2 separate regions of the Homo sapiens genome follow, and region 1 is linked to region 2. Evidence: fine-mapped expression QTL. A gene starts in region 2. The other region holds a variant in brackets. All regions are shown on one strand. Distances are between the middles of the regions.

What was found. PIP is the estimated chance that this variant, and not a neighbour inherited with it, causes the effect.
Region 1: its variant is fine-mapped to the expression of DDR2 in cerebral cortex (GTEx, PIP 0.96).

What each region holds. Positions count from the first base shown.
Region 1 is chr1:162,778,084-162,780,889 of GRCh38, forward strand. It overlaps DDR2 (discoidin domain receptor tyrosine kinase 2), which reads left to right. Exons shown (of 18, transcript NM_006182.4): 17 at 497-646; 18 at 2,029-2,806. The coding sequence ends at 2,163. Among named protein-coding and RNA genes, the nearest start is that of HSD17B7, 11 kb to the right of the region's middle. The variant C/CT (reference allele first, on the strand shown) is at 1,226.
Region 2 is chr1:162,630,720-162,633,525 of GRCh38, forward strand. DDR2 (discoidin domain receptor tyrosine kinase 2) reads left to right here and starts at 1,745. Exons shown (of 18, transcript NM_006182.4): 1 at 1,745-1,912. RefSeq lists enhancers at 23-202, 493-592.

The sequences.
Region 1 (2,806 bases), 150 kb after region 2:
AAATGTGAGTAGTCAATGCATGCTATTTACACCTGAATCTCATTGCTGTCACTTGTTAAAGTCTATCTTTCAACACTGTGATTATCACTGAACTGGTAAATGAGAGTCCTGGATTCACTGCAGGCACTTAAACTAGATTCCTCTATCTCTAACATAAAAACCATTGACTTCCCATTCAGATTTTGCCTTTCTCAGGAGCATTTTCCCAAGGCTACCCTAGAGTTGAAAGGTTGACCTAACACTCAGTTGCAGAGTCAAATAGCTTATGGCTGCGTTTTTTTCAGCTCTTGGATCTCATCCCCAGAGAAACAGAACCAAGCTGAGATCATGAGAATGAAAGAATGGGCTGTTTCTAAATACTCCATGCACATCTTGGCATTTTCAGAATTCCTTGCCTGTGGTGGGGGAAGGGGTATAGCTGCAGATTATGAAATTTAACAGGGTGTTGTTGTGCACAGGTTATTCTGATTTCCCATTCTTTTCTTTACTTAAATAGGGCAAGTTCACTACAGCAAGTGATGTGTGGGCCTTTGGGGTTACTTTGTGGGAGACTTTCACCTTTTGTCAAGAACAGCCCTATTCCCAGCTGTCAGATGAACAGGTTATTGAGAATACTGGAGAGTTCTTCCGAGACCAAGGGAGGCAGGTAAGAACTGTTGGGGATGAATGGATGTGGACCTGTGTACCTTGAAGGATGGAGAATGGCAAGTCCTGCCTTAGCAGGAGTGGGCCGAGATGGAAGACAGACTATCCAGGTGTTAGTCTTTGTCACTAACTATCCAGATGATGTGAAAGACCAGTATCCTCCCCAGGCATCCATACACTTTGCTTTATCTATGTGTCAACTCATTGACTCTTGGAGAGCATAAAGGGTCATGTCAGGTTTCTCCCCAGCTCAAAGGTAGCAGGAAACAAAGTCCTATCTCTCATGATTTATCTATTTCTTGATCTAGACCATGTGGTTTTTCTTCTGGGTCAAAAAATAAAAGTGTAAAAGGGATGTATTAGCATTCATTAAAAATATAGCTTAGTATAAGAAATGGGGTTGGTTTTGACTATCTAGCAATGTTTCTAGACTTGGATGTCTGAAAATGGGCAGATATATCCTAAACTTGTTGCTCTTGGAAGGCATCTCTGGGCCCAGTATTGTGACATCTCAGGACTCAGGGAAAGATGAGTTCCCAAGCTCCCCAGGAGTCTCAATTCCTAGCCAAGATACTCCAAG[C/CT]TTTTTTTTGGGTGGCTTAGATTTAAAATTCCTGTGAGATCTGGAATTTAAAGCTTGCCAGTAACTACAGCACCGCACTTCCCCAAAGGGGCCTGGCAACAGCATACCCTTGGATTATGGTATCTTTACCAGGAAAAGGATAATAGCTGGGGGAAGGATCTTGCAGACAATAAAAAGTGGATCTTCTGTGGCTTGAACAGATCCAAGCAAGCCAAAGATAGATAAGGTATTGACAAGAGATAATACATTATGCATATTAAAAATAAGAGAGGGGTCTGAGAATTTAATTGTATCTTGATACTCTGTAAATATTTTGGCAGCAGGGAGTCTAAATTAGCTATCTTGGTTATGAGGCAATTTGCCTTCTTACTATAGTCAAAGGAAAATTTACTCCTGAGTACATGAGATAAGTGAGTGGGCCAAAGAAAAATGTTGTTTTCTGCCTCTGCCATGATCGGCTCAGCCAAGATGAACTTCAATATGGGTTGCCCATAAATGGAAGATTTGGTCTCTTTTTGGTTGTTTCATCTTTTGCATGAAGGTAGGGACCACATAATGGCCCATCAAAAAATTCTGCTGCAGACAACTGCAGAAGACAAATGGAACAGCTTAGAAAAGGGCTGATATGATTCAGAACTTTCACGAGTAGGAAAAATGGACACTACACCCATTTCAGTTATCAAGTTCAAGAAAGTGGGCAGGGGGCAAATCAAACCATGATGCAAAGATACTTCCCTTTCCCCCGTCTTTGTAATATTCTCTCTCTCTCTCTCTTTTGTTTTCCTTTATTTTTGTTCCCAAAGACTTACCTCCCTCAACCAGCCATTTGTCCTGACTCTGTGTATAAGCTGATGCTCAGCTGCTGGAGAAGAGATACGAAGAACCGTCCCTCATTCCAAGAAATCCACCTTCTGCTCCTTCAACAAGGCGACGAGTGATGCTGTCAGTGCCTGGCCATGTTCCTACGGCTCAGGTCCTCCCTACAAGACCTACCACTCACCCATGCCTATGCCACTCCATCTGGACATTTAATGAAACTGAGAGACAGAGGCTTGTTTGCTTTGCCCTCTTTTCCTGGTCACCCCCACTCCCTACCCCTGACTCATATACACTTTTTTTTTTTTTTACATTAAAGAACTAAAAAAGGAAAAAAAAAAGCCTAGGGCAGATACAATCTAGTAAAAGAAAATCTTTGATATACCAAAGTGTTGGATAACAAAGGCTAGAAAATTCAGATAATTTATAAAGGTTAACTATACTTGTGCTTATAAATGTGCAGATTCTACAATATTTTTCCATGTCATTCTAAAAGAATCTTCAGAAAGAAAAACTTGAAGAATACTAATGTCTTGGGAAACATGAGATTAAGTTTAGGGAAAACACTTGATAGATGTGGAGAATCTGAGGACTCAGAATTCAGCAACTAATCACAGGTGGTTTTCTAATTTGGCCTCTGGACATGTCTCACTGTTTGTATTTCTCTCTCCTGTCAAAGTGAATGATATATTCTTGAAAACCCCCAATTTCTTGAAATGGGTGTTCTGTTCATTCATGGGCAGGGGTCAGGATTGAAGTTCATAT
Region 2 (2,806 bases):
TTCTTTATAGTAATGCCAAAGAGGTGAACTACTACAGGCATGGACATTTGAGGAGGATTTCTAGTTGTCTCTGGCAAGCACCCAGTAAAGTGCCTGATAAGAGCCCAACACATATTTATTGAGTTGAGCTGCATGTCTGGCCTGAGTCACCCTCAGGCCTGACTTCAGATGCTGTAAGTTATTTGAAGAGTCTTCTTAATAAGTTGATCTCTGCAGTGTCTTTTCTCTTCATAAACTAACCCTAGTTCTAGTTTTTTCTCTAAGGTCTTGCTTGCTGCCTTTAATCATTTCCATGGCTGCCCTCTGAACCATTCCCATGTTCTCCGTGTCCTTTTCTGTAACAGCTGTGAGGCACAGATGTTAACGGCTGCTTTCTGACCCTCAGACTGGTGCTGAGCTTATGAGACTTTTAGGGACTTAACACTGACTCAACACTAGCTCTCAGTTTCATGGCCACCCTCATTGTGTGTGTGTGTGTGTGTGTGTGTGTGTGTGTGTGTGTGTGTGCGCTTTTCCATTCCCCTTATGAAACATCTCCTGCCCCTAACTTACTATGGGAACGTTCCTCCATGATCTCTTTCCATCCTCCCTTTCCTGTTTGCTCACTTCTTTTCTTGCTCATCTTGGAGACTGTGCAATCCCAGATTAACTACAAACAGAGAAGAGCTGGTGATAGCTCCAGAGCTCAGAGAAAGGAGGTCTCTTTACAAGAAGTCTGGCTCTCAAAGGTAAGCTCGGTCTTCTTGACCTGCCTTTTGCCATCTACCTCTCTCTTTGGATCTCCTGCCCCTGGGTCCCTGCTTGCCCTGCATTCTCCATACTCACGGAGAATCAGGACCTCCAGAACAGCCCAGCGTGGGCTTGGTCAGGAATGATCCAGGCTCTGAAGGGTTAAGGCTGGAGCCTGGATGGATGGAGAGGGTTATTAGTTATCGTTTGGAGAGTGGAGTGAAGGCTCCTCCCCTGTTGCCTACCCGCCCCTTTCACATGATCTCTGACTATAGCTGTGGAAGCGGGGAGAAGATAAAGGAGGGAAAAAAAAGTTCACAAAATAATTTAGAAAGTCCTTATAAATGCTTGTGTTTTCATTTAGCAGCATGAATCCAGGACAGCAACAGACCCTCAGAGGCAGCAGCCAACTGGGAATTGAGTGGAAAAAAATAGGAATCCTGGATTCTGGCAGTTTCCAGTTGTTTTCTTGGTGGGGGGAGCCGTGGTGGGAAGGGATTAAATCAAATCTTTCGGGGGAGAGCTCAGCTCTAGGCTTTCATGGTCAAAATACTAAAGGTCAGCTCCGCGTGTGTGCCCCAACTGTCCTGGAAGCTTCAATTGGAAAACTCCAAACTTTAAGTTTTGCTTATAGCTTCAGCTCAAGTAAGAAAAATGAGGTGTGGGGTAGGCGGCGGGGGGGTGGGGATCACAGGAAGGGGATCAAGTCTTAGATGGAGGGGAAGGAAGTGGAGATGGATATGGGTGGGAATAAGGCAGAAGGGAGCGGTGTCTTTAAGTCTGTCCTATGGTTATACATATTTTTTCTTCTATGAATGGGTTTTGCTGTAAATTATAGCTTTGCCCATAGTCCCTTGGGTCAAAAGAAATAGTCTCCAAACAGAAAACAGCTCTGATTGGTGACTTTCCTTCTTCCCTCCCCAACCCCCTTCCTAATTGAAACCAAATGTGCAATATATTGGATGCTGGGATCCCTGGCGCTTTCCCAGGAATCCTCAGAATGTGAGGTTTCTCTCAAAGGCATCTTGCATCAGCCTGTGGATGTATGCCTACCACCGGGCTCCTTCACCAGCAAAGTGGAAAAAGAAGCGTTTCACAACAAATTCTTCTTTTTGGGTTGGGGAAACGCAGTGGATTATAGCTCTGTTTTCTTCTTTCCAAAACTGTGCACCCCTGGATGAAAGTAAGTTATGTGGGTCTTTTTTCTTTATTATTTTTTCTTTTTTGAAAATGAAAGCTCCGCATATACTTCTTTTGGTGTTTCAGGAAAAGTTTTAAAAAGGAAACAGAAGGGCGTTTTAAGTCAGACAAGGAAGGGAACGTAATGAGGCACCACAGACTCGAGAAATCAGATCCCATGTTTTTGGGGGTCTGGATTTATGCTATGAAGGGAAGAATAAAGAGCAGTAATAACCAAAGAAGCCTGAAGCAAAATAAATGAATCTATAGCAGCTGCAAGATACAATAAACAGTGTTAGCAGAGTTGAAATTGTTGGCAGGCAAGACAGGCCGATTGCAGAGTTAGTTTCAGGATGAAGAAGGCAGAGCAGGAGAGCTAAGTTTTTAGACATTTAGTAGTGGTGTTAGAAGGTCCTGAGTTTTGGAGATAGTGTAGACCAAGCACTTTTTGTTTTTCAGGGGAGTTGCTGATTTACTTGTGAGAAGGGTAACTTTGGATGAGGGGTGGCTTCCCCCTGAGATTTGGGGTGGCTAGGGGGAGGCTGGGTGCATGGAAGATTTTTCAGTTGTGACAGTGAAATACAGCTTCCCAGACTCATCTCCTCGCTGGCTCTGGGTGCCTTTCCCTTTGTTATGGAATGACTGGGGCTGTTTTCATTTGGGACCTCTGAGTCCTGGCCTAGGTTCAAGAGTCCCATCCAAAGGGAAAGAGAACTGTTCCCAGTGGCTGAAACTCTCAGACCAGCCATTTGAGGCAAGAGTTCGTACTGTTCAAGCCAGTAGGGGGTTCAGCACCATTTTGCCGATCATTGGCTTCCTACAACACAGAGTTAAGAGTCCTGAAAAGGGCCTTAGGCCTCTCATCTAACCCCTTCGCTCCACAGATGTAAAAAATGAT